Homo sapiens: one gene and its partners. The protein of the gene in region 1 purifies or fractionates together with the protein of each later gene. This does not show direct contact. Each region holds a gene or a part of one and is shown on either strand. Other genes may lie near its edges. The genes, in order: CERKL, ANKHD1, PPM1B and PPM1G.

Region 1 (8,020 bases):
CACTTACACACCGGTGGTATGATTGTAAACTAGTACAGTCAATATGGAAAACAGCATGGAAGTTCCTAAAACAATTAAAAATAGAAGTATCATATGATCCAGCAATCCCACTACCAGGTATGCATCCAAAGGAAATAAAATGAGTATGTTGAAGAGATCTGCAATCCCATATTTACTGCAGCACTATTCACAATGGCCAAGATATGGAATCAACCTAAGCGTACAACAATGGATGAATAAAGAAAATGTGATACAGAAACATAATGGAATACTAGTCAGCCATTAAAAAATAAAGTCCTGTCAATTGTGAATGCTAAGCCTGGAGGACATCGTGTTAAGAGAAGTAACCCAGACACAGAAAGACAAATACCACATGTCACTCACATGTAGAATCTTTTTCTATTATAAAAGGTTGATATAGATAAGGCAGAGATTAGAATAGTTACCAGAGACTGGGAAGGGGAGGGGAGAAGGAAGGATGGAGAGAGGTTAGTCAAAAGACACAAAGTTACAACTAGGTAGGAAGAATAAATTCTGGTGTTTTGTTGCATAGTATGGTGACTATGGTTAACAGTAAAATACTATATATTACAAAATAACTAGAAGAGAGTCTTTTGAATGTTCTAACCCACAAGGAAATAATGAAAGTGTGAGGTGAAGGATAACTAACTACTTTGATTGGATAATTGTACAACGTAAATATCAAAACATCAAATAGTATCTCATAAATATATACAATTACAATGTGTCAATTAAATTTTTTTAAACAATTAAAAAGTTATTAGACCAGCTGTTGGATCTGGTTGAGTTAATGTGCTTAAGAAGCACATGCATAACTTTATATCACACATTTAAAATATTTCTCTACTTAAAAAAAAAAAAAATCCCCAAAAAGCGCTGATACTTTGTGCCTCCCAAATTGACTTATAGCCTCTTTTCGAAAGCCTCACTTCTACAGGGAAGGGTAATAACACATCCATTATTCCAGGTCATCCCTGAACCCAATAAAAAGAACTACAATTACTACGGTTATGCTCATTTACCCTGCCAACAAGACCATCAATTTGTCCCAATTTTGGCAGTCAGAGCCTTCATAAAATACATTAATGTCTTTGCTTATTACTCAAGATGGAAAATTAGAAAAAGATCACATAGTATTTTATTTCATCAGTGAAAACAAAGTACTATGAGGTTTAAAAACTAAGCAATCTTGAAAACATACGTATGTTCTAATAATCTCCAGTGATCTCCCCTACCCACCCTCATCCTTTTCTGAGGCAGCCAGTCACTTGCCAACCAGCAATGGACATGCTCTCCCCCCACCACATCCTACCATATCATGTCCTCCCAAGTACAGTAACTTTGATGTAGCTCCCTCTTCCATTTAATCTTTTACCACTCACATCTAAGCTTATTCAACAACAGAGCATTTCTAACATTTAAATATATCATCTCTTAATATCTCCTTCTTATTTCCCAGTGTTTGTTTTTGTTTGTTTGTTGTGCTTTTTGAGATGGAGATTCACTCTTGTTGCCCAGGCTGGAGTGCAGTGGTGTGATCTCCGCTCACAGCAACCTCCAACTCCCAGGTTCAAGCAATTCACCTGCCTCAGCCTCCCAAGTAGCTGGGATTACAGGGACACACCACGCCTGGCTATATTTTACCTAAATAAAACATCTCTTGGTTTCTTCCATAAACAGAAGTACTTACTAAGGCTCTAGGCTTCTGTGCCCCCAATTTTAGAGGCCCAAAGTGGTTTGAATACCAGGTATTAATTACAAAGAAAAAGGGTACACCTGTATGAAGGAAAAGACCACCAAATGGTTTTAGGGCATAATTAAACAAAGAATCAGTACTTGCAACCTTTAAAGTTACAAATCTGTCAAGATGTATTTTAAACTCTACTGCCAGGGGTGCACTAATTAAACCTATTTTACCTTAATCACCACTCAATATAAAACAGCATTTCTTTTCTCATGTCATTGTTTGCTTTTTTTGTACACAAATACTGCAACATTGGTTTGTATGACCTCTCATTGCACAATGTCTCATTTTAATTCTATAGCATTTCAGCTGCACTGTAGGTTAAACTGGCTCTTTGGGCTAATCCAAACTGTAATTATAAACTTCTATATTGCATAACTCGAATTGCCTGAAAGACTTACAAATAATTCCATAGCTATATCCCTAGCTTTTAACTTAAAAGGTTCAAGAAAATACTACACCTTGGTTTTTAAAACACCTGAAAACACTTTAAGGTCAAAGACTGTTTTCGTGAAGCGAGCGAGCATGGCACATGCAGCACAGGCAGAATTCACAATCGCAACCAGTGCTGAATCCCTGGCTAGTTGGTTTCATTTTGTTAGACTTTTGAGCAAGACTTTAAGACAGTGAGTCTATTCTGTAACATAAATACCACACTGTGTCTTGTTTTCCAACAGGGGAAGGCAATTTTTTTAATTTCATAAATTTGTATTTAGCTAAAAGAGGTTGAATACCAAATTCCATCTCCCCCAAGTCATCTCCTCGCAAGTAGAGTAACCTTGATGTAGTTCCTCCCCCATTTCATCTGTCTTTCACCGCTCACATCTAAGCTAATTCAACAATGGGGAGTATTTCTCGAGTTTGGACTTAGAAATAAGACTATATGAAAGTCTACTTATAAGACTTGCAAAATGGTCTTTATAAAATATCTGTTAAGTCTATAAGGCTATTTGACTAAGACGTGAAAATAGACTCGAAGTATTTGTTGTAAACTACAGCATTATAACTTTTTTAGGTAACTAAAATTTTAAGTCAATAAAAGGCAAACGTTAAGCAAACCGCTTGACGTAACTAAGCATCGCAAAACTGTGATCCAATAATCTAGGGTCAATATTAAAAATCAAAAGTTTCTAGACCGAGCCTGAAGAAGTCTTAATTCTAGACAATGGCAAGGAAGGTGAGGGGCAGAAAAAAACCCAGAAACACTCCCAAAGCTCTGGAGTTACATTTTCAAGTCAGCAAAATGAGAGTTGGATTCAGAACTCTTGTGTAGGCATAATCTGTGAGATGTTTATAGTTTCAATGTACCATCAAAGTTAATGGATTAAAACTTTTTCAACTTGGAGGGGAGGAGTAGTTGACCTTCTCACATTTGTAAATTACCTCCCCTTTGGGGCTCAAGATTTTCTGCTGAGACTCTGAGCAAAAGCTGCTTGTGACGTTTGCCCGGGGAAGGTCTCGGAGGCGGGAAAAGGCTAGGTAGCGAAAGAATCCCTGGGGGTTCTGGGATGGGGCGAGAGGCGTGAGTTCCCAGTTGGGAAGGAGGAGGCGGCGACTTGGGGACTCGGTAACCTGTCCGGGCAGTGAGGCGAGCACGGGGAGGGGAGGCGAGAAAAGGGGAGGGTGGAGCAAAAGCTCGTGGGTGTAGGCCTTGGGCCGGGGAGAGGGAGGAAGCGCGGAGGGAGGCGAAGACGCTTGGGGCCGGGCACTCACCCGCCGGGCGCTCGGGCTGAATGGGCCGCCACCGCAGTGCTCGCTCGCTCAGCACCACGTCACAACTGTCCCTCCCGATCTCGAAGATGCCCCGGAGCAGAATCCGCTCGGCCGCCGCCTCCGTCTGCTGCGGGGACGTTAACAGCGCCGGAGGCACAGCGGCAGCCTCCGGGGGCGCCTCTTCCTCCCGGCCGCCCTCCAGGGCACTCACCCGGTTCCTGCGCCTCCTCCAGGGCATGGCGGAGTCGCAGGCTGGGCCCGAGCCAGGGGTCCGGGGAGGCCTTTGGAGAAGGAGGTGGAGGGCGCGGCAGCCCCAGCTCTAGCCGCGTCCAGCGCTGCCACAGCAACGGCGCGCAGGGCAGGGACCCAGGAGGGAGGCGGGGCCGCGCCTGACCCAGTCCAGCACCCTGGCCTGCCAGCCTCGCCGCTTCGCCACTCACCACAAAAAGACCCAGCTGCAAGAGGAAGAATAAGTGGCTCCCTCCGCCTAGCTTCTCCTGTAAAGTACGATTTCGTACTTTTCGTTACCCTCGAGTTAAACCAGCCCTCCTCAATCTTAAACTTGCATATAATCGCTTGGGCATCTTGTTCAAATGGAGATTCTTATTGCATAGGTGTGGGACTGGCCCCCAGATACCACATATCTAAGAAAATACTAGGTGATGGATCCCACTGGCCAAGGAACACACTTAGAGTTGCAAGGGTGGAAGCCTCTGTTTTTCCACCTCCTTTCCAGAGGGTTCCCTGGAGAGCACAGGTGACGCTTTACAACCCTGTTTCAGAGTAGTAGCGCACTTCCCAAAACCCCTGAGGGGAAGCTAGAGATAAGGCCCTGGTTTGCATAGACAAATTTGCATCTGACAAATTCAGTATTAAAGGTAAGTGCCTCCAGGTGTAAGTATTTAGGGTCCTACTTTCCCCCAAGGTAGCGCCTCTGCAGTCTTGTCTTTGCCTGGATCTTGCACTCCCTTGAGGGAGATTACAAGCAGCAGGGCTTCACTTTCACGCACTGCCATAAAGAAGTGTCACCTGGAAAAGGAGAAGAGCCCTGGGGGGGTTCACCCTTTTCTCCTGATAACTGAGATTTCTAAAATCAGCTGCTCATTAATTTTGATAACACAGAGAGTCTGGAGGCTAGTGATTCTCAATTGTGGTTGCACATTAAAGTTACATAGGGAACTTTTGAAAACCCAAATGTCCAGGCCACGCTCAAGACAACTAAGCTGGAATCTCTGGAGGCGAGACCCAGACTTCCGGATTTTTAAAAGTTCCCAGGTAATTCCAATGTTCAGCCAAGGCTGATAATGGCTGCTCTAAGCAGGGTGATAAAACAGGGAGCTGAGTACTTGTAATGGGGAAGCAGTCAGGAAGAAAGTGAGTCCCTGGGAAGAGGAGCAGAGTGGGAAGTAAAGCAGAAGGCTTTTTTTTTTTTTAAACAAGATCATTATCATCATATTGAAAAGAAGGAGTAGGGGAGTTGAAAAGGAAATTAAATTCATAGGGTTGTAGATCTAGTTCCAGTGTTCTAGTGCCTAAACAGTTCTATCATAGAGGCAGCAAATTCTTAATTCTGTCCTCATTCCTGGTCACACTGCAGAGTCACAGAAAGAGCTAACTATAGCAGGAGTTTCTCAAGGTTCTTAGCTCAGACGGTTTGTAGGCCTAACCAAATCCCTACCAAACATAAAGCACTGTGCACCAGTTAAGCTAGGACTCTTACTGTTTAATGCTCCGACAATAAGTACCCAAGCTTCGAGGAAAAGCAAGGAAGAGCTTCAGTTTGATCTGACTGCAGTGAGCTATTTCTTAGAGCAGAAGTGCAGCTGCTGCTAAACCCCATGCAGGCTTCAGGTGGCTCTGTTCAGCAGTCATTAGAGGGAAAAGGACGGTGCCCTTCGCAGAATGAGTTGCAGTTCTGGAGTCAGCATCTTGTATTCACAGCTGTTAGGCAATCAACACAATTAGAGCTCACTGGCATTTTAAAAGCTCACCCAGAGCCAGTGCAAACAGGCCAAGCCAATGGCTACTCCTTAGGAGCTTTGCAAAGGGGCAAGTTGCCATTTTTCAAGCTTCACTCAAGCCAGGAAGTCAAAAACACTGGCTTTGAATTGTCCTGAAGATGGAAGTAATAAGGATTGTGTTTCCTTCTTTCTTTCTTTTTCCTTTGATAAGCTGCCTTCTTCCAGGGCTGGAGTGCCCTAGGGCTCTCTTTAGGATCTATCCACACACTGTCCCGTGCTTTATGTACCATCCAGGGTTCTGCAAATGATGTCACCAGCTCCAACCACTCTCCTGAACTTTAGGTATTATGTCCAGCTCCCTACCTGACATCTCTACTTGGCTGTCCAATAAGCTTCTAAAACATATCTAAAACCAGACTCATGATTTTCCATCACAAACCTGTCCCTCTCAGAATGTTTCAAATCTGTAGTATCAAAATCCTTGATATCATCCATGTCTCCTTTGTCTCATGCCTTCAATCCAATCTACCAGCAAATCCTGTCCATTCTGTCTAGAACATATAGTCCTTTCTGCCTGCTGTCATTGCAGTCTGCACTTCTGCACCCCTCAGCTGGACAACTTCAGTCTCCGCTCTCCCAACCCAGCTCTCTGCTTTCGGTTTCCCCTGTGCTGGCACCTCCAGCCCAGAGCCAATTTTCCATTTTGGAGTTACATTGTGCCTTTAAAAAATAACGAGAGCATATAACCCTGCTCACAGCCTTCCATTGACTTCCCATTATTCTTGGAATAAAGTCAAAATGCTTAGCAAGGCGAGAGGTCCTTTATAATCTGGACCCTGGCTATGTCTCCGAGATCACCTACTAACTTTTTCCCCTTGCTCATTCACACAAAGCCTTCTTGCCAGTCCTCAAACACATTGAGAAGAATAATCCCTTCTCAGAGCATTCGCTTTTGCTGTTCCCTCTGACTGGAATGCTTTTCTCCCCACCAGATGGTTCATTCTTTCACTTTGCTCATTTTTCTGTTTAAAGGCCACCACCTCAAAGAGGCCATTCCTGAGCACCCTCCATAATTCACCATCCTGTAAACCTGTGTATTCATTTCTTACTGCTGCTGTATCTAATTACCACAAATTTAGTGACTTGAAACAAAACCAATGCATTGTTTTACATTTCTGGAGGTCAGAAATCCAAAATCAGTTTCACAGGACTAAAATCAAGGTGCCAGCAGGCCTATATATTCCTTCTGTAGGCTCTAGAGGAAAATATATCTCCTCTTTTCTGGCTTCTAGAGCAGCAGTCCCCAACCTTTTTGGCACCAGGGACTGGTTTTGTGGAAGACAGTTTTTCCACGGATGGGGGCAGTTTGAAGGGGTGAGCATTTTGGAGGCATTAGATTCTCATAAGGAGCACAAACTAGATCCCTTGCATGTGCAGTTCACAGTAGGATTCAGGCTGCTATGAGAATCTGATGCTGCCACTGACCTGACAGGAGACAGGGCTCAGGTGGTAAAACTTGCTTGTCCACCAGTCACCACTCACCGCCTGCTGGGCAGCCTGGTTCCAAACAGGCCACAGACAGGTACTGGTCCATGGCCCAGAGACTGGGGACCCCTTTTCTAAAGGTCACCTGTGGATTTTGTTTTGTTCTGTTTTGTTTGTTTTGGCTCATGTTCACTTTTTCCAACTTCAAAGCCAGCAGTCTAACATCTCTCCTCTTTGCTTCTATCCTTAAATCGTCTCTTTTCCTCTGTCTTTGACCTTTGTCCCCCGTCTTAGATAAGGACTCTTATGATTACATTGGGCCTGCCCAGATAACCCTTAATTATGTTTTCAAAGCCTCTTTTGCTATGTAAGGTAACATATTCACAGGTTCTGGGGATTGAAACATGGACATCTTCACGCTGCCATTAATCTCTCTACCATAACCTGCTTTAGTATTCTTTACAGCACTTACTATTAATTCTTATTACATACTTCTTTGTTTATTGTCTAGCTTCCCCACTAAGTTAGTGTACTTAGTAACAATACTGAAATACAGAGAACACTCAGTAAATTTTAAGTTTGTTAGAATATAAGCCCCCTGATGGCAGAGAATTTATCTTGTTCACCATTAAATCCCCAGTATCTATCACAGTTCTTAGTACACAGTAAGTGCTCAATTAATATCTGAAAGAATGAACTTCTTCAACATTTATCTATAACAATAATACCAAGATACCCCAATTATTTCACGTTAGTTCCTGAAGATCAATTGTCTCATTAGTGATTCATGTGTATATATATATATGTTTATATATATGTGTGTGTGTGTGTGTGTGTATATATATATATATATATATGTAAAATACTAATGCATGAAAATTGCTTTCAAAAAACTTTCAGGAAGCTTCCTGAACATAGCTTTCCCTCCTTTGGCTGAAGCTTGGGTATTTGTTTCCAGAGCATTAAACAGTACAGGTCCTAGTTTAAAAGGCACTTTGTTGCTTTATGTTTGGAAGGGATTTGACTAGATCTGGAAACACAGTCTCCATCCCTGGTTCTTAAAAATCCAAGTCTGAGTAGAAGACTGTAAAATATA
Region 2 (3,600 bases), on another chromosome or scaffold:
TTTTTGTCCCACTGAATAATTTATTTAATATTATTTCTCACTAGTATATATTTCATCAAGAGTAGTTTCATTCATTTCACCAATTTTAGGTGATTTTTCTTGTTGCTGTTAATGGTAAGTGGAAACAGCAAGATACACAGGTGATCCAAGGAGTCTTTTGTGCCCCACCCAACTGCCCCCACAAAGGTCAAGGGGCCCCTTAATGATACTTGATGTGGTTATCAATCACTACAAAGTAGTAGCTTCAATAAACAACACTTTCAAAATCCATTCAAAACAAAACATAAGACATAAGCTTAATTAAGGAAGCTTTCTCATATGTAAGATGATATAGAAGATTAAAGAAGCAGGTATATCTGACACAGAACAAACATGGTGTGTCTGATGTGGTCCTGGCTTTAGGACCTGGGCAGAGAAAATTAAGAATTCCTGTTGGCATAAGCGTAGAAAGGTGCTGCTAATATAGTTCTGTCCCTAGTTACTACTCTTTCTCTGTGCATCCTTCTTTGCCTTGATATGAGTTTTGGCTTCTCCATCAGCTCCAAACATTTTCTTGTTTTCTTTTCTGTATTGCCTATACTGACCAGGAAAAATTCAGCTATATTAAAACACAAATAAGTTGATGACTATACTTTTCAGTGGGATAACTTTTCCTTCTCTATGCTGATTCTCGGCATAGCCTATGGTTTGGCCAAAGCAGCCCATTCCAGGGTTCCTCTGTTTAGCTTGTTAAACATATTGACTCTCCATGCTTAGGGCCATGGAACTAAGCCTGGAATTACTCACATATTTATAAATATTACTCAGCTGATTCAATAATACAACAGAATGACAGGAGTCACCTCCTTATGTCCCAACTCATATAAAGCTTAAAATATCTATAACCAGACAAATCTTTCAGATAAAAAAGGTCAGGAAGCACAGAAGGAACCTGAAGTTGATAATTTGGGTGTCCCTACATTTGTTTAGTGTCATCTGATTTAAATCCAATTGTTCTTATTGACATTCTCATGATCCATAGAGAAAAAACCTATCAGTGGCCTATCTGCTAGCTAAAGTCAGATAAGACACATTGCCAGAGCTTGAAACTTTCTCATATGTTAAAGGATTATGGAAGACAACAAGGGAACAAGGAATGTTTAACACAGAATAAATAGGTAAATAGTCTTAAAAGTGCTTTTTTAAGGCAGTCTAAGAAGGGACTCAAGTGTTAAATGTGAGAAGCCTGTTACAAATATAGTATTAACCATCTGGTTCAATATAATGTGGATTGAGTGGTACCTGCATGACCACTGAAAGGATCACACCCCACTTCTAAAGACTGTTCATCTTTTTATTGAATATTCTGGTAAATATTTCACATTAATACAGGCTACATTACGTAGAGCCACTATATGACAAGAAATTTACTCAACTTTTTCCTTTTAAGTATGTAAACAATTATACATGTATTTATCACCCTAAAAGGTTGAAACATGTAATCAACTAATTCTCTTCTGCATACAAGTAGTATTCTGTATGTTTAGCCAAAAGCACTAAGGTCATATGATCTTAAGTTCAAAATGGCTAAACTAACCAGAGAACATAATCAGGTGGATAGGAAATCAATTTGTTCTTATACAATGGGCAATCAAATTTCCATTGCTAAAGCCTCAGAGAAAATTTCTTAGGCACATTAAAAAAAAATCCCCATGGTTCTTCCAAGGTCATAGGTTTCTTAAACAAGGCTAAAGAGTAAAGACCTTCTAACTTAGTTGACATATTTGAGATGCATGTTTCCAATATGAGGTGCCCACGTGCCAGGCCAAATCTGAAAAGGGGGAGGAAAAATTGGAATTTCTAATTAGGAATCTTTAGACAGTTACAAAATGAATATATAAATGCAATGGCAATTCACTGTTTCTGCCTAGGAAGAATACACATATATTAAATAAAGTGTTCAGTAGCATCATCTTGATATTGAAAAAGCAATCCAGATCGAAATGGTCAATTATGACTTTTGATATTCAGTACTTATACTTCTCACAAAACAAAAAGAATGATGTGACAAATCTAAAAAACAAAAGAGCATTAAGCCCATTTTACCTGCTGGGCATCAGTGCATTCAGTTGAATTTTGGATAACTTTTATCATAGGGTTCCAAGCAGGATCTGGATTGTGAAGTCCATTAAACAGAGGGCCTCCTGGAACATCAGCAAGCTGAGGATGAGAGGGTATTATGGTGCCTCCATACATGGAAATTGGCAGACCCTAAAACAGCAGGAAAAAAGATTTAATCTTAAAATTACTATAAATTATAAAATTACTATAAATCCCATAATACCAGCTTAGACTTCTCTAATATTCCTCATTTAAAGAACTCCAAAAGATCCTATAAGTACAGTATGGCAGTGTTGAGAAAACAAAATGTTTATCTGCATCTGCAAAGCTTTTCAACAAAAAACAAGAGAGAGAAAGAAACTAAATCCAATATGAAATCATCAGGAAATTTCTCATATTTGATAAAAATAACCTCAACTTTCCCATATTTTAGTTTCATGAATAAGCTTGAGCTAAGAAGAAAATGGGAACTCTACATAATTGATTGCCGACATAAAGCTGTCAGAGCAGACAAGAAAGCATCAGTGAACTCATGGCCAGCTTTTAAGAGGGGTAGAGGCCTCCCTCAAAGCTGTAGTAGCAGAGCACAAAGTGGCAAAACCCAAATCCCTCAGGTGTTTTCGGGGGATGGGGACATCTTCAGGACAAACTACTGTGGACAACTCTGTGCACTCCTGAAATTAAGCAAAAGATCTAGCAAAGCCACAGAAACAAAAGGGAGCATTATTTCAATACAAGGTATTCCTTAATGTGACTACATTGGCTGACAAAGTGTCAATCAAGTTACAGTGATGTTTGTCAACTCACTTTAGAAAAATCCACAAAACCACTTGCCATAGGCTGATGAAAAATGTTAGAGGGGGCTACCATTCCAGAATCATCTCTCTCCATTGGCTGATGTTGGGAGAATGTGCTTGGGTCTGATAATTGTTGATGCATTGGATGGTTCCCCATCACAGATTGCGACCAACCTGATAAGCCTTCTGGAAAGAATAATTGAAAACAAAGTTTTAAATTTATTTGGATAAAACAACAAAACATTACCATTGTTATTACCAAACATGACCAAATGTTACTGAAATCTTTCCTCTGAAGAGCTCAAAGCGTATTTATCACAGTCTTGCTAGCCAAAAAAAACCAGTTCCTGAAAAACTAGGTAAAGTCCTCTGAATACTCCACTTTACCCTGTCTTTTAAAAGATTAAGTACTCTCTGAAAGAACTCAAATGATTATTTAAGAGAGAAAGGACACACACTTTGAATCTTTTGTTTCTGATTAACTCTATGTATTACCTCAACCAATATTCCAGACTCTGAAATTGGACTGAACTCCTCAAAGATATAAACACCCTTCCCTAATTGAGTGTTAAACATAGGAACTAAGTTTTTTTTGTTTGTTTTTTCTAAGGAACTAAGTTTTAATGGCAAACCTACAGCTTACTTAAGATATCCCTCCAGAGAGAGAGCAAGGCAATTGTACCTGACACAGCATTGACACCAA
Region 3 (8,673 bases), about 140 Mb from region 1:
TTGGGGGACAGGCCCAGGCTTCAGGTCGTAGAACTGAGAAAAGGAAAAATGTCCAGCAAACTACTTGAGATCCTCCAAATGCAATTCAAGAAATACTTATCAAGCATCTATTGTGTATGATTTACAACAAAAGAAACGATGTCCTTGCTGAATTGGAGGTTATAGTCCACAGCAGGGGTACGACCTCCTCCATGCCTTTTTTTGGGCAAAGGGTCCCTTTGGTGAATCCTGTGGATTTCTTCTCAGAATAACATTTAAAAATACATAAAGCTCATTAAGATTATAAAGGAAAACCAATTATAATTAAAGACAGTTATGAAACAAGTACATTTGTGATATGCTTCTTTTTTTTTTTGAGACAGAGTCTCACTCTGTCACCCAGGCCAGAGTGCAATGGCATGGTCTCGGCTCACTGCAACCTCCGACTCCCAGGTTCAGGTGATTCTCCCGCCTCAGCCTCCCGAGTAGCTGGGACTACAGGCACGTGCCTCCACACCTGGCTAATTTTTGTATTTAGTAGAGACGGGGTTTCACTAGGTTGGCCAGGCTGGTCTCAAACTCCTGACCTCGTGATCCACCCGCCTCAGCCTCCCAAAGTGCTGGGATTACAGGCATGAGCCACCACGCCCAGCCTATGCTTCTTTATTAATGCATGAAATAACAAGATCTAGTGATGAGTATAATAATTATAATAATTTCAAAAGAGTGGTGAGTATAAATGACATCTAAAGAGATTGTGATGCTTGGTAAAGACTGGGAATCTCTGCTCTAAGCAACTTGTGACCTCGCAGTTCCCTGATTGTTTGGGCTCCCTTGCAGCTAGGGGTGATCATGTGATTTCCTCACCCAACTTTTTCTACATTACATTTAATATTGTTTTTATTTAAAACTATATATTGGGGAATGATTTGCATTACTAAGAGACTCTAAAACTCTTCATGTGGCTCTGGAGAAAGATGTTACGATTCCCATTTTGCAGAACAAACCAAGGCTCAGATAGCTTAGTTACTAGCTCAAGTCACACAGCTAGTTCGTAGCAGAGCACATTATGATGGTACTCAGGGTTTATGACACATTATGTTTATGATGGTAAACAGCAGTTTTCAAAGTTGTGACTCTTGTTGGGCTTTCTTTAATGGTTTAGTATTTTAAGCAAATAAAGCATACAACAAAGTTAACCTTCAAATCTGTTCTGGGGTGTCTCCATACTTTTTTTTTTTTTGCTCTTGGTGATTGAAAGTATGAATGATATGGAATTATCAGCCCACCTAAATGACTGAGCTTTGTATTTGTTTTTGGGTCAACCAAGGGAAGGTGAGAAGGAAGTCAAGCAAGCCAAGAAACTGTTCTCATGCCTTTCTGTAGTTGCTTGTATTCACAGGACAAGGGTCCCTAAATGTCTTCAGTTTTTTATCCTTAGCATGGTTCCCATTTTAGAAGCTGAGGTCTCAGACTCCCTTCTGCTTACATAAGGGGTGTCAGGCAATGGAGTGTGATTAAAGAAAATTTAATTTTTTTATAAGTCACTTCAATAATACTTCCTGCGGACTGTATGATCTCACGCTGATAATAAAGGGGACAGTGGAAATGTGAGATATACATATGTTCTCCCAACATGCAAAAGTGAGGAAATTAATTTACTTTACATCTGCCTCCATTATCCTGTGCCAGAGGGTCTCAAACATTGATGCGCATAAAAATCATCTGCAGGTCAGGTGCGGTGGCTCACGCCTGTAATCCCAGCACTTTGGGAGGCTGAGGCGGGAGGATCACTTGAGGTCAGGAGTTTGTGACCAGCCTGACCAACATGGTGAAACCCCGTCTCTACTAAAAATACAAAAATTAGCCAGGCGTGGTGGTGGGTGCCTGCAATCCCAGCTACTCGGGAGGCTGAGGCAGGAGAATCACTTGAACCTGGGAGGCGGAGGTTGCACTGAACCGAGATTGCACTACTGCACTCCAGCCTGGGCGTCAGAGTGAGACTCCGTCTCAAAAAAAAAAAAAAAAAAATCATCTGGGGAGCTATTTTAAAATTCACCTTTCTGAGCCTTGTCCCCAGAGTCCCTGATTTGTAGGCATGAGTGGACCTGGGAATCTCTATCCCAGAATCCCAGATGATTCGGATGCTGGTGGTCTATTCACCATGCTGTAAGAAACACCATTCTCACACAAACTTGATGAGTAGGTTTTAAAAATCTGAATTGCAGAGGCGGAGCCGCCACCCTGCCGCGACTTTCAGTCTCCGACCATGGCCTCACGCTGGTGGCGGTGTGCCCGGCTCCCCCGGCCTTGCAGGGCCTCCAGGGCCGCGCGCCGCTGCCGGCGCCCGCGCTCAGGCTCATAGGCGGAAGGGATTCGGCTTGTCTCAGATACCCTATTTTAGTCTTGTGAAGCGCTTAACATCTGCCTGTCCAAATGTATACAGTATATCACGGTTTTATCACACAACCCCGGACAGTAAAACACACAGTGGTGAGAAATATACAGATCACCGATCCTTTCAAATTCGGTTGCAGAGACTTGAAAGGTCTGTATGAGGACATTAGAAAGGAACTGCTCATATCAACAACAGAACTTCAGGAAATGTCTGAGTACTACTTTGATGGAAAAGGAAAAGCCTTTCGACCAATTATTGGGGTGCTAATGGCCCGAGCATGTAATATCCATCATAACAACTCCCGATCCGATGTCCAATTTTCACAAGCTGATTGCTGAGAAGGTTCTAGGCGGCGTCTGTTAAAAAGCATTGCTGTCTGTTAATTTGACATGTGCAAGCCAGCCACCGCGCCATAGCCTTAATTGCAGAAATGATCCACACTGCTAGTCTGGTTCACGATGACGTTATTGACGATACAAGTTCTCGAAGAGGAAAACACACAGTTAATAAGATCTGGGGTGAAAAGAAGATACGGTTTTTTGGTTTTTTAAAATCTCTCTTACCGAATCACATGCTTTTTGGACCGCGTTTGCTTTTTCAGATTTGTCTTATTAAAAAGTAAAATATGCTTGCTCAAAAAACAAAAAAACCCGAATTGCAATTAAGTCTTTGTTTCTGCCGTCCTTATGACGGCCTGGACAATTGTCCTATTACTAAATTTGCCCTTTTCTATAAAACATTGACAGCCCCTAACCTGAATAGCACTCTGTTGGGTCTAAGCTTAAATTGTCTGCCCAAACCATTTTACACCAAAGTAGGAAATAGGTTTAAGTTCTTTTAGGACATTCGGATTAAAAAAAAAATATATATATATATATATATCCTAAGGTAAGTATTAGAATACCTCTATTACACTTTTGTTTCTCGTTTGGAGAATTAACATGGCAGCATCGTCTAATTTGATAGCTGGAGGAGTCATGTCCACTTTCCCCATCGGCCTGTTAAACCCCTATCATTCATTCTTGACTCATCCTGTGTCTTTGTGAAGCCTTTCTTGGTAAACCTATGCACAAGGAAGACCCTTTATGTCGTCACCAGCCCTTGTGCATGTTTCAATTGTAGTACCTATCATCTTGTACTGCGATTGCCTAATTTATTTTTGTATCTCCAGTTCTACATACAGTACCTGGCAAACAGTAGGCGCTCAATAACTGCGAAATGAACAAGTCCATGTCAAGAGACTAGGCTGGGAGTTTTAATATCAATGCCGACTGAGAAACAAAATACGGAAATGTCAAGGGCTGGTATAAAAATAATCTCTAATAGCACAAAATCCTCCTGAAGGGAACACCTGTCCCACTTTCTCACGTTGCTTTCCAGGTTCTTCCGACACCCCAATTTCCCGCCCACTCTTCTCCCTCCGGGGTACAGGTCAGGCAGGTATCCCAGCTCGGCGGCTCTGATAGGTCGGCGATGATTTCATTGTTAGGGAACATCCGGGCCTTTCCCCTCCCCGCAACACCTCCCCAGAGCCCGGCCTTCCCAGTTTCCCACTCTCGCCTGCGCCCCACCCGCGGCTGAAGCAAAACAACCGCCTCTCCCCTGCCCACTTCTTGTCCTCGTCTGAGTCGTCCCTTCCCGTCTCCACGCCGAAGAGAGGCGTTTAGATCCTCCAATGAGGGCCTAGGAGGACTTTCTTAGCCAATCAGTAGCCAAGCCCCTGCAATTCCGGGTGGGACCAGGCGTCCACACCTATAGCTGGACTGCTCGTTGGTCCCTTATGGCGCTTCTTTTACGCGAGGCTTAGAGGTCAAATACAAGGGGGCACGGTCCTCACAGAACGGAAAGGATCCGTACAGACTCTCCGGGTTTGACCGTTTTCTAGGACGAACCAATCGCTTTCCAGATACTTCCCCGCCTTTTGCGCGTTCATTTGAAAAAAGCCGGTGTGACGGACTTGGAAATTGGCTCAGTGACTGACCCGCAAGAAAGCCAGTGACTGGGGGTTCGGATCACGAGTTGGACCAATAAGAAAAGACAATCGCTGGGGCCGGGGCTTTGCTAGGAGGAGCGCAGGTGGGCGTTATTTGATTGACGGAGGGCTCTACTTATGGCTGGTAGCGGGGGCTGGTCCCTGACGTTCGGGAGGTAGGACCTAGCGGAGGCGGGGCCGAATAAAGTAAATGGTAATAAAGGGTTGGGTCTCACTTAGTGGGCGGTGTTTGATGGACAGCTGACCTTGCCTATTGAAAGTAGCCACTGATGCCCAATGGGAAATTAGAAACCCAGAGGCGGGGCCGGGTGGGCGGGGTAAACGAAGTACGGAGGTGCCGAGGGAGCAGCACGGGGAGGGGGAGCGGTGATTGACAAGACTCCCAGCAAACCGGGGGCCGTGAGAGGGCGCGCGGCATCCCAGTGGGTGGCAGCTGGAGGCGGGGCACCCTGAGGGGCGGGGAAGGACTAGGGTGCGGGGAGGGGGTTGCAAAAGGAGCCGAGCGGCTTCTGCTCAATGGCGGAAAAGCCGCCGGTGCTCTGACGGCCTCGTTCCCCTAGCAGTTGCGGGGGAGTTTCCTGCCGGCGCGGCTGGAGTCTCTGATTCTCAGGGTTCGGTGGTTGGAAGATGCTCCAGAGAGACGAGGCTGCGGCGGAGGAGGTGGCGGCGGCCGAATCGGCAACGGCGCTAGGGTGGAGAGAAGGCGGCATCGGCGGCGGCGGCGGCGTGAGGGGCCGGGCGGTGTAAACAGCCCCGGAGGCGGCGGTCGAGACCCCGAGGGGGAAGCGGCGGCTGAGTCAGGGTCGCGCCTCCGTTGGAAACTTGGGCTGAGTACCGCGGCGGGCGCGAGCGAGGCGCCCTAGACATCTTCTCCCTCCCTTGCCTCAGGTAAGGCCGCCCGGCACCCCGCCGGAGGGGAAGCGGCTGACCGGCCGCGCCGCCGAGGCCCCGGGCCCTGGGCAGGTTTTCGCGGTGCTGCCGAGCCGCGGCCGGGGCCTCTGTCCTTCCGAATCCTCGCTGCTTTCCCTGCTGCCGCGGAGCCTAGGCAGGGGAACGCCGGGCCTGGCTCTCGGGTATAGGCCCCTTCCCCGGCCGCCGCCTCCGCTGGGCTGAGGTCTGGGAGAGGCGCAGGGAGAGAATGGGAGTTTGCTGGAACGCCTGGAAGCTGACTGATTCTCTCTTCCCTCCGCTTCAGTCTGCAAGCATCTCTTTCACACGAAAGCACTGGGGCTACCCCAAGCCTTGGCGCTTCTCTTCCTGGTGCATGCCCTGTTTGAAAACACTATCTTTTACCATTCGTTTCCTCATCAGCTTCTGCCCTACTCTGCGCTCCACTTCACTTCCTTGTTAAATCGTCTTTCTCTGCTGTCTATGCGTTCTACCCTCGCCTTCCCTCCTTAGTGGCTTTAAATTGTGTGTTTCTCTTTTCTTCGTACCCCGGCATCTCTTGCCTGTCTTCCCTAGCACCATCCTTTTCGGATGTCATTCCTAACAGTGAAGTTCTTAATTGAAACTGCCACTTATTGTCAGTACCCCAAATCTACCGGAGCCCCATTAAGAGTATAGACTGACTAGCCATATGTGGTAAATCAGTTTTTCATAGTTTAAGCCTAACAACCTTGAAAAAATTGTATTATTAAACGTAAAGTGTGAAAATAACACCGAAAATAATTTTTTAAATGAAGGACTCAGTGAGTGTTGGAAATAGTTATTTCTTCATTTTTTAAACTTGCATGACCTCTCATATCAGATTTAGCAGATCTGGGACGTTTGCCCATCTTATTCGGCAAAAAAAGTGCTTCTTAGGCGTTTGATAGCAGCCCAAATTCATCAATATTCAATTTCTTCTAAGAACAACTTGAAAACTTTTTTAAAAAGAGACGTTAATAACTGGGAAGTTGTTTTGATAGTCACAGTTAAAGAGCTTTTAAAATAGGCTCCACATGTTTAATGTATCAAAATAAAGTTGGCAGGCATGTTGTAAAAGGATTATTTAGGAATTTGAGTAGTCTTAGTGTTATGTAGCTATTTTAGGAAAAACATTCTTTTTCTGTTAACAAACGTTTACAACTACGGTGATGTGAGAATTACTGAGGCTTACTGTGGGATTAACACAGGAACTGTCTTTATTTGAGCTACTGCATGGATGAAGAAGTGGTAAATTGTTCAGAGTAGACAGTGTAAGTCACAGTATGTTCTAGGAGATGGAGAAACATGCCATGGACGCTGAATGTTAATAGATGTTATTTCATTTACTTTCTCTGTTGTGCAATAGCAAAGTTCCTATTGTTGGCCTACTTTTAAATGGGGCATTTCTAAGTAAATAGTGAGACAAGTTATTCTAATTATTATGATAGTCTTTTCCAAGTGTACAGGCCTTTTAAAAATATAGTTGAAGTAATGGTAATTTTTTAAGGAAATGTTTTTGTAGGTCTGCCAAATGGACAGTGTGTTGTTCTAATCGAAATTTTAAAATTAAGTATTTAGAACAGAATATTTTAGTCCACACATTTTCAGGGATAATCTTTATTTTGTGCTTCTTCTCTCAATGCCTTCTTTGTCTTTTTTTTTGTCTTAATGGTTGTTGTGTTTTCGCCTCTTCATTTGTTTTTGCTCTCATGAAGTCTTACAACAGTTTCTGCAGTGGTTCTTTTTGTTGCTGTATATTAGCACGAGTATTTTTATTTGAGCTTTCATACTGTAAGATTTCCCCAGTTTCTAGTACATTATCCTCTGGATTTGTTGAAGTGATTGTTCTCTTTGAAGTGACCAGCAGAGCTTTCAACACCGTTTTCTTACACTGGGTGTCTGATTTCTGTGAAGACTCTAGGAATAGGTGAAAGGCCTTTCAATTTAGTCATGTCAGTAAATACTGTTTTATGTTAGTAATTCACCTAATTACTAAATTCCTTAAGATTACATCATCTGAAGGAATAGTGTAGTGTCCAAGTAACTGTGCTTCTAAGAACAGCTGATTCACAGGTTGACAGGGTCAGAAAAAGTGGCTCTTGTTGAAAGTTATCTTTTCTATAACAAACATTTTTTATGGAATCTTTTGAATTAAAATATGATGCTGATTATGTCTTGGCAGTCTTGGAAGCTTAGAATTGGCCACGGTATCACTTAGTGATTGTGGTGATTCATTAAAAAGAGGCTATATAGGCCAGGTGCGGTGGCTCATGCCTGTAATCTCAGCACTTTGGGAGGCTGAGGCGTGTGGATCACTTGAGGTTAGGAGTTCATGACCAGCCTGGCCAACATGGTGAAACACCATCTCTACTGAAAATACAAAAATTAGCCAGGTGCGGTGGCGCGTGCTTGTAATCCCAGCTACTCAGGAGGATGAGGCAGGAGAATCACTTGGACTCACGAGGTGGAGGTTGCAGTGAGCCGAGATTGTGCCACTGCACTCTAGCCTGGGTGCCAGAGTAAGACTCTGTCTCAAAAAAAAAAAAAAAAAAAAAAAGCTGTATTTCATGAATATTTTTATATGTAACTATTTTAAAGTATTTTGTGACATTACCTAGCATAGAAAGTAGTTAAGTAGTATAATTCTAACTCTCGCTTTTAAAAATGCAACATACAGTATTTTATATTTTCTGTGAAATATGCCTTTCACAATTCACTGATTTTAGTAAAAATTAGCAAACAAATAACTGGTGGCATCAGAATAATAAAAGTTTGTTTAATCCAAAATTATAATAGCAAAATTTATTCAAGTAATAGCATAAAATGTGAAATCATGATTATGGTAAGATAATTTTCAGGAGTATGATATTCCTGAATTTTCAGTTATTCTTCACACTGTACCTGATTTCTTTTTGTTTTTCCCTTGCTGAATTAATTTCAGAATTGGAATGAAATGGAATACTGCTATTATATTAGCAGCTTTAAAGTTTTATTGTAAAATGTATCGTATATTAGCAGAATTGATGGTTAAGTGTACTGACATTTCACTATGCTATACTCAAACATTGATGGTGAAATAGAGTTTTGGGAACTATTTAATTTTTGTAGTTTGTAGTTGGCTGTCATAAAATTTGCAGAATGACAGAACTGATCATCAGCTTCTAGTGGCTGATCTAACAAGAACAGGTGAAGAAAAAGGTACATGAGCTTCATAATGTGTATTTTTTCTTTGTTTTTGTTGGTGTTTACTTACATCAATACATTGAGTTAAAAAAATGGGTTTTCATCTTTTGGATTAATTTAAGTATGCTAAAGCCATTTTAGAATCTTTACAAGTAAAATGTTTCTAGGCCGGGCACAGTGGCTCACTCCTGTCCCAACATTTTGGGAGGCT
Region 4 (9,014 bases), about 150 Mb from region 1:
GAAGAGAAGCTTGAAACAGGCAGAAAGTAAAAATGCCAGCTATTGATGATTGCCATTTTTGTCTCAAGAGTCCTCTCTACGGCTAAATCTATCCATCAGTCAGCATGTCAACAACCTTTAGTGGTATGATAACCTTACCTCAAATGAAGCATTAGGACCAAGCAAATAGGGTAAATAAACTTTATTAATTTTTGGATTAAGCCCTAAAGCTTCAGAGGAATGGGAGTACTTTATATTTTCTGGAAAGATAAGATTCAGGGAAGAGGCTAGAACTCATAGTTATTTTCTTGCAATAGCAAAGAAACTATGCTACACTTTGAAGAGAAAAAAAGCCAGAAGGAACACTATCAATGAAGCAGAATAGGATCCCAAACAATACTCTTCAAGAGGATTTGATTAGGCATATTTAACTATTGATTAGGCATATTTATTCAAACAAGGGCAACTTCAGAAACAGCACATTAGCAAGATTTTAATACCCTAAGCAGTTATCTCTCAGGAGGAAGATTAGGATGTAAGGAATAGTCTAGTAAGATCTCTACACACTAAACCGTCCCTGACAAAAAAAATCATTTTCTAATTGAGGAGAAACCAAAAATAAAGGGAAATGCCCTACAGAGAAGCAGCAAATAGTATGGAATCACTGGGCAAACCAACGTGAAACACTGAGTAGCCAAGCAACTCAATCCGTAAGTAAAAGTAGAAAGAAGGGTACCAAAGAAATGAAAAAACAACAGCAGAGAAGTGAAAAATATTAAATGAGAAACCTGGAAGAAACGTTTTACTGCGAGATGGAATATTCACCTCAAATCTCACAACGTTAACAGAAAATGCCATGGAAATGGAACTTCTTGACTACCTACTTTACAAAAAGACTTTCCTACGAAACTATACCCAGATTTATTTATTTATTCTTTTTTTTTTTTTTTTTGAGACAGTGTCTCACTCTGTCGCCCAGGCTGGAGTACAGTGGCACGATCTTGGCTCACTGCAACCTCCGCCTCTGGGATTCAAGCGATTCTCCTGCCTCAGCCTTCCAAGTAGCTATGATTATAGGCACGCACCACCACATTCAGCTAATTTTTTGTATTTTAATAAAGACGGGGTTTCTTCATGTTGTCCAGGCTGGTCTCGAACTCCTAAGCTCAGGCAATCCGCCCGCCGCAGCCTCCCAAAGTGTTAGGATTACAGGCATGAGCCACCATGCCTGGCCTATTCATTTATTTTTTGAGACAGCGTCTCGCTCTGTCACCCAGATTGGAGTGCAGAGGGGCGATCTTGGCTCAATGAAGGCTCTGCCTCTCAGGCTCAAAGTGATTTTCTATCTCAGCCTCCCAAGTAACTGGGACTACAGGTGGGTGCCACCATGCCCAGCTAATTTTTTTGTATTTTTTGTAGAGACAGGGTTTTTGCCATGTTGCCCAGGCTGGTCTCGAACTCCTGAGCTCAGGTGATCTGCCTGCCTCGGCCTCCCAAAATGCTGGGATTACAGACGTGAGCCACTGCGCCCAGCCTAGATATTTCTAATAGACAATTACATCTACCAAATAGTTATACTGTGTATGGTGGTGAAATATGAATGCTATGCTTCAGTTTGACATAGATGATTAACAATGTCTAGTGTCTTCAACGATCTGATCCTACAAATTCTTTCCACCAAAACAGTGTCCTAACCTTTCTGGGCCTCAATTTCTTAGCTATAAAATGTGGGAGCCGCAGGGTGTGGTGGTTCATGCCTGTAATCCTAGCACTTTGGGAGACCGAGGCAGGCAGATCACCTAAGTCAGGAGTTCAACACCAGCCTGACCCACATGAAGAAACCCTGTCTCTACTAAAAATACAAAATAAGCCAGGCGTGGTGGCACATGCCTGTAATCCCAACTACTAGGGAGGCTGAGGCAGGAGAATTGCTCGAACCTGGGAGGCGGAGGTTGCGGTGAGCCGAGATCGCGCCATTGCATTCCAGCCTGGGCAACAAGAGCGAAATTCTGTCTCAAAAAAAAAAAAAGGGAGCCAAAGCAGATGAGATGAACTATAGGATACACTCCAATCCTGAAATTTTATACCTAATTATAAAATTGTTATTAAGGTCAGTTATGAATATAAAATTTGAATCGGAAAACAAAACATTTAAGTTCATACTGTCATTCCAGAGCTAACCACAGGGAGGAGCGAGGGATCTGAAACAATTCCCAAGGGAGACAGTATTTCGCTGTTACCTGAAGCCCACCCGGTAGGTGGAGAAACCCTCAATACCAGACAGAGTATTTCCCTGGCCCTTTTGCCTAGACTTCAGAATGCTCTTCACAAAGCCACGGTTAACCCGTCTTCCTCCCTTTCCTCCCTACCGCAGTTTTCCCTCTTCTCTTTTGTAGTTTCACATCAAGTTTTACCTAATACTACTACTTTCCCCCCAATATTTTTCTTTTCCCCTTTTGTCCAGAGTAAAATTTTCTAGAAAAGCCCTTTGTAGGTAGGTTGTGATGAAAAAAATTGATGAAATGACTTACAATCAAAGAAACTATAAACTACAATTACAGGCAAATGAGAATTACTGATTAAGTTTTAGAGAAATCCTAAGAGAGAAAGAAAACGAAGCATAATAAAAAGGAAAACCTAGGGACTGACATAATTCAAGTTTTCCGAAGTTAGTAAAAGGCCCTGAAAAGAGTGCAAATGAGTGACAACTCCTGGAGGTCGGGTCCAGCCTCTGAAATTAACATGCAAGAGCCCAAGGCCAGGCAACCAAAATGTGAAACAGACTCTGCCCGGGGTTCCTTTCACTGTCAAACTCCTAGCCAAAAGAGGCTTCCCACATCAGATATTTTAAATATTAAAATTTAAAAAGTTATTCACATCTATTCACCTCTCCCTTGAAAAACAAATGAATAAATAGCCCCTATTTGCGTCTTTACTCCCACACTAAACCTCACACCGTTGATGAGCCTGGAGGGCTAGGTTGGCACGAGAGGATGGCGCCAAAGCTCGGGGAGAGGGCGGTCAGTGGGCGGAAGGTGCCTCTTCCCACATGGCCGAGCCCTCGCCGCCACTGGCCACCGGCACACGGTCCCCAAGCATCGGGAGCTCCCTCTCGGCCCTGACCCCGCGGTCTCTGTCGCCCCGCAAACGGCCGCTGCGGCCGCAGGCTCCCAATTGGGACCCTTCCCAGGGGAGGACCCCATCCCCCGCTCTCTTTCTCCGTCAGATTCCCGCCCCGCAGCGGCCAGCCTATGGGCCCCTGCCTCCTCACCTCCATGGAGACGCGCCAGCCTTGCATGGCGGAGAAGCCGTAGGGCAGCGGCAGGCGCGGGGCGCCGACCCCGTCCCCGGAGCACTTCACCGTGTTGGGCTGGGAGAGGTAGGCACCCATGGCGGCGGCTGGCCGGCGGCCTCAGGTGCAGGAAAGCTGGGCGCGACCCGTGCCGGAGCCGAAGCCCCGGGGGTGCGCGCGGCAGGAGCAGGCCCCGCGGCGCGACCGACGCAAGGTGCCGGTGAAAGGCGCGAGGCCGGCCAGGAGGCGGTAACGGGACGGGAGCTGTGAGGGAGCGGAAGCGGAAACGGCGCCGCTCCAGACCCCGCCCGGCCTGCGCGGCGGGGCCAGGCGCTGCGGGCAGTCATTTCCTTAGCAACTCGCCCCGCCCGCAGGGACAACGGCCCGCCCAACGGCCGCTCCCGCGAGACTAGCGCGACCACGCCCACCAACGGCCGCCGTCCTACTCCGCTTCCTCGCGCAGGTGGCAGGTCGCCTCTGGCAGAACCTCTTCCTTCGTTCCCAGTCCCCAGCCTCTTGGCGTTTTGTCTGACGCCTCTTTTGTGTCGGACTCGACGCTTTCAGCCCGTCCTCCAGTGTTTTCATCCCCCTCTCCCCAACGTTGCACTCTCAGACTCCGCAAACCCCGCCCGATTTGGTTCAATTAAAGTTGACCAGTATTTGTTCCGAGCTTAGGAAGTACTTGGCCAGGCCATGCGAGGCCTATATGAGAAGAATGTGAGTCTTTTCTGAAAGCGAAGACCTCGATCTGTGATATAATTCGAGTTAATACAATGTAGAAATGTTTGGTACAGCCTATTCTGGGTGGGAAAAGCTCAAGGATGGGAGGAGGAGCTGTTTCTTGGAGGATTGAAAGGATGTAGGCTCTCAGAGAGGATGCCTCTGGATTGCATTATGCCACAGGAAAAGGGAATAATGTTATAAGGTTTGGAGGAGTGAGGGAAGAATGTGAACTGCATTTGGGGAGGATTTCTGAGGAAGCTGGCTGGACTCGGAGAATGATTGTAAGTGGTAATATTAACTAGCTAGCTTGATAAAAAGAAGCGCCAAGATGAGTGACTTGGACTTCATTGTCGTCCTGGTGTAACCTTTGGCATCGTTTGTCTAGTCTTTGTATGCAGTGTACATTGGAGGGAGAGAGTCTGGGGCACTGTTGTGTTGTTGTTTTTTGTTTGTTTTTGAGACAGAGTCTCGCTCTGTCGCCCAGGCTACAAGCTCCGCCTCCCGGGTTCACGCCATTCTCCTGCCTCAGCCTCCCGAGTAGCTGGGACTACAGGCGCCCGCCACCACGCCTGGCTAATTTTTTGTATTTTTAGTAGAGACGAGGTTTCACCGTGTTAGCCAGGATGGTCTCCATCTCCTGACCTCGTGATCCGCCCGCCTCGGCCTCCCAAAGTGTTGGGATTACAGGCGTGAGCCACCGCACCCCGCCTACTATTGTTTTTTTTTTAAGACAGAGTTTCGCTCTTGTTGCCCAGGCTGCAGTGCAGTGGCGCTATCTTGGCTCACTGCAACCTCCGCCTCCCAGGTTCAAGCGATTCTCCTGCCTCAGCCTCCCGAGTAGCTAGGATTCCACGCCTGGCTAATTTTTGTATTTTTAGTAGAGACGGGGTTTCACCATGTTGGCCAGGCTGGTCTCGAACTCCTGACCTCGTGATCTACCCGCCTCAGCCTCCCAAAGTGCTGGGATTACAGGCGTGAGCCACCGCGCCTGGCCTGGGGCACTGCTACTAGTTAGAGAGCTCTTACTCTAAGCAGGAGATGAGAAGAGCTGGGAGTAAGGTGGTACCACGCAGGGTGGCAATGGGAATCCAGATGAAAGGACAAATTAGACAATAACAAATAAGACAGATTTGGTAATAAATTGCATTCAAGGGATGGAGAGAAAAGGAGAAATTCTCCAAACTATGACAAAATTGATTCTTTTCAGCCGGGCACAGTGGCTCACACTTGTAATCCCAGCACTTTGGGAGGCCAAGGGGGGGTGGTGGATCACTTGAGGCCAGAAGTTCGAGACCAGCCTGGCCAACATGTGAAACCCGTCTCTACTAAAAATACAAAAATTAGCCAGGCGTAGTGGTGCGCTCCTGTAATCCCAGCTACTTGGGAGGCTAAGGCAGGCGAATAGCTTGAACCCCAGAGGCGGAGGTTGCAGTGAACCAAGATGGCGCCACTGCACTCCACCCTGGGTGACAGAGCAACTCCGTCTCAAAAAAAAAAAAAAGATTCTTTAAAAAGATAAAACTAATCATGGCTTCTTCATGCTCTTCCGATAGTCCAAATTCCTTATAGTTTACAAGACCCTTCATGCTAATCATCCAGATTCACGTATGCCTCTCTTTAACTCTCCATTTCTCCTACAACTCTGCTTCAGCAATGTCTTTGGGTGCATCTAAAGCCATGCTTTCTCTTACACTTTTACCCATGGAGCACACCTCTCCACACCCCTCTTGACCATCACTTTCTCCAGGAAATCTCTACTATCACTATACTAGTTTGGGTCCACACTTGTTTGTCTTTCCTGATAGAATATAAGCCTTTATGAAGGCAGAAGTTCCATTAAACTTACCATTGTGTTTTCCAGCATCCCTTGCAAAGTTGTATGTGCTGAATAATATTTAAATATTTGTTGAATGAATGAATAACACCAAGATTTTGACTCTGCATAACAAAATGTGGTGGAGCCATTAACAGAAAAAGGTGCAGTTTGAGGGGATGCTAGTTTTGGGGGGAAAACAGTGGTTCAGTTTAGGGTGACAACTAATATAAAAACATTGAAAATATTAGATTGGAGTTAAGCCATGAAAGTGGAAAAGATGTTAATTAGGCTTGCAGGTTGCCAGGAACCTAGATGAGATCTCTGACCAAAGCAGTGTAGAGGGAGCATATAAAATTACTCAGCCTTGGTTGCAGTGAGCTGAGATGGTGTCACTGCACTCCAGCCTGGGCGACAGAGTGAGACCCTGTCTCAAAAAACAAACAAATGAACAAAACAGCAACAACAAAAATTACTCAGCCTCTTCTTTCTTCTCCTTCTGCTCCTCCTCTTCCTCCTTCTTCTAAGAAATGAGGTCTTGCTATGTTGCTGAGGCTGGTCTTGAACTTCTGGGCTCAAGCAATCCTTCCACTTTAGCCTCCCAAATAGCCAGGACCACAGACATGTGCCACTATGCCCGCCTTCTTTTTTTTCTTTCTTTTTTTTTTTCTTTTTGGACTTTGTTTTTTCCTAAGAATGGAATGTGACATTGTTTAAAGAGCATGAATTTTGCCACATATTACCTATGAGATCTTTCACAAGTTACTTATTCCCTCTTAGGCTAAGTTCATCTGCAAGACAGACATACAGCATCTACTCTTCAAGACTGCTTTAAGGATAAGAGGAATTGAATGTAAAGTGCTGAGTTATCCATAAATGTTGTATATTATTCAACAAAAGACTGCTGTTTAAGTGTCCATACATACACGCTAAATATGGAATGGAAGCCACATTTAATTGTGTTCACAAAAAATAGGAGGTGGCCTGAAAATAAATGGGAAAAAAACAGACAAGAAAAAAAGTGGAAAAGAAAATATAACTCGAGGCTGGGCACAGTGGCTCACGCCCGTAATCCCAGCACTTTGGGAGGCTGAGGCAGGCGGATCACTTAAGGTCAATAGTCCGAGACCAGCCTGGCCAACATGGTGAAACCCTCTCTCTACTAAAAATACTATATAAACACACACACGCACACACACAATATGACTCAAGGAAAAAGTAACGCACTGGGAGAGCAATAATGTTACAGAGAGGGGAGATAGATACTAAGGGGGATCATGGAAAGAGGTGAAAAAGGAGAAAGAGTATGAAGATTATCCCCTCACCATCCTATTCCCCTCAAAGTCACTACAGTATATTTCCAGTGACGTAAAGGTTTCATGCTTTGACTAGAAGGGAGAAAGAAAAAAAATTTTAAAAAAAGGCCGGGCGCAGTGGCTCACGCCTGTAATCCCAGCACTTTGGGAGGCCGAGGCGGGTGGATCACGAGGTCAGGAGATCGAGACCATCCTGGCTAACATGGTGAAGCCCTGTCTCTACTAAAAAATACAAAAAATTAGCCGGGCGTGATGGTGGGCGCCTGTAGTCCCAGCTATTCGGGAGGCTGAGGCAGGAGAATGGCATGAACCCAGGAGGCGGAGCTTGCAGTGAGCCGAGATCGCGCCACTGTACTCCAGCCTGGGTGACAGAGCAAGACTCTGTCTAAAAAAAAAAAAAAAAAAAAAAAAAACACCCAAAACGCAATACTATATTCATAGATCGATTGATAATGCTGAGTCTGTCTTTAAAGTATGAGCTGCAAAAATCTGGCTAATCAGACATGGTAATAGAGCCAGCTCCTGAACATGTACTTGAGGTGTTAGTCCACATGAAAAAAGGGTTTTTATGGCAGGCATGGTGGCTCACACATGTAATCCCAGCACTTTGAGAGACTGAGGTGGGTGGATCACCTGAGGTCAAGAGTTCAAGACCAGCTTGACCAGTATGGTGAAACCCCGTCTGGCCGGGCACGGTGGTTCACGCCTGTAATCCCGGCACTTTGGGAGGCTGAGGCGGGCAGATCACGAGGTCAGGAGTTCGAGATCAGCCTGACCAACGTGGTGAAACCCCGTCTCTACTAAAAATACAAAAATCAGCTGGGCGTGGTGACACACACCTGTAATCCCAGCTACTTGGGAGGTTGGGGCAGGAGAATCGCTTCAACCCAGGAGGCAGTGGTTGCAGTGAGCTGAGATCGTGCCATGGCACTCCAGCCTGGGCAACAGAGCGAGACTTTGTCTCAGAAAAAAAAAAGAAACCCTGTCTCTACTAGAACTACAAAATTAGCAGGGTATGGTGGCAACATGCCTGTAATTCCAGCTACTTGGGAGGCTGAGGCAGGAGAATCACTTGAATCTGGGAGGCAGAAGTTGCAGTGAGCCGAGATTGCGCCACTGCACTCCAGTCTGGGTGACAGTGCAAAACTCCGTCTCAAAAAAAAAAAAAAAAAAGAAATTATGAACCCTGAGGCATGTAATTATAGATCTCTGGGAATGTTGCCAGCCTGGGAGACATTGCCTTAAAGGTTAAATGTGGATGGGCGTGGTGGCTCACACTTGTAACCCCAGCACTTTGGAAGGCTGAGGCGGCCGGATCATCTGAGGTCAGGAGTTCGACACCAGCCTGGCCAATATGGTGAAACTCTGCCTCTACTAAAAATACAAAAATTAGGTGGGCGTGGAGGCAGGCGCCTGTAATCCCAGCTACTTGGGAGGCTGAGGCAGGAGAATCGCTTGAACCTGGGAGGCGGAGGTTGCAGTGAGCTGAGATCCCGCCATTACACTCCAGCCTGGGCCACAGAGCAAGACTCCATCTCAAAAAAATATATATATATATATTAAATGCTCTAACTTTAGAGTATAATGTGACATCAGTTCAATTGTAAATTTGAATGTGAACTGAAGATCACTCAAAAAAGTGTTAATCTAGATCATCCAAAATATGCCAATATGCTTGTATTTATATTAAATATTATAAATTTATGTTGTCTTCCTATGTTACCCAGGTTGGCCTCAAACTCCTGGGCTCAGACAATCCTCCCACCTCAGCCTCCTGAGTAGGTGCATGCTGCTGTGCCTGGATCTCATTGTTTTTGACCCTTTCTTCATATACATGTGATTCATATACATCAATATTATACTATTCATGAAATGATACCTTTAAAAACTA

What was found.
Region 2: the proteins of CERKL (region 1) and ANKHD1 purify together in Homo sapiens (affinity purification with mass spectrometry, with the first as the bait; 2 studies listed by BioGRID). This does not show direct contact.
Region 3: the proteins of CERKL (region 1) and PPM1B purify together in Homo sapiens (co-immunoprecipitation; 3 studies listed by BioGRID and IntAct, with this or other methods). This does not show direct contact.
Region 4: the proteins of CERKL (region 1) and PPM1G purify together in Homo sapiens (affinity purification with mass spectrometry; 2 studies listed by BioGRID and IntAct, with this or other methods). This does not show direct contact.

The regions. Positions count from the first base shown.
Region 1 is NC_000002.12:181,653,291-181,661,310, forward strand, and holds the start of CERKL (ceramide kinase-like protein), read right to left. Parts: upstream 3,816-8,020; 5' UTR 3,717-3,815; coding exon 3,479-3,716; intron 1-3,478. UniProt on the Homo sapiens protein: Has no detectable ceramide-kinase activity. Overexpression of CERKL protects cells from apoptosis in oxidative stress conditions.
Region 2 is NC_000005.10:140,537,569-140,541,168, reverse strand, and holds the end of ANKHD1 (ankyrin repeat and KH domain-containing protein 1), read right to left. Parts: coding exon 3,580-3,600; intron 3,084-3,579; coding exon 2,908-3,083; intron 2,251-2,907; coding exon 2,086-2,250; intron 1,811-2,085; coding exon 1,751-1,810; 3' UTR 1,320-1,750; downstream 1-1,319. Other genes in the region: ANKHD1-EIF4EBP3 protein, read right to left, coding at 2,086-2,250, 2,908-3,083, 3,580-3,600. UniProt on the Homo sapiens protein: May play a role as a scaffolding protein that may be associated with the abnormal phenotype of leukemia cells. Isoform 2 may possess an antiapoptotic effect and protect cells during normal cell survival through its regulation of caspases.
Region 3 is NC_000002.12:44,164,017-44,172,689, forward strand, and holds the start of PPM1B (protein phosphatase 1B), read left to right. Parts: upstream 1-4,858; 5' UTR 4,859-5,258; intron 5,259-8,673.
Region 4 is NC_000002.12:27,406,053-27,415,066, forward strand, and holds the start of PPM1G (protein phosphatase 1G), read right to left. Parts: upstream 3,540-9,014; 5' UTR 3,371-3,539; coding exon 3,251-3,370; intron 1-3,250.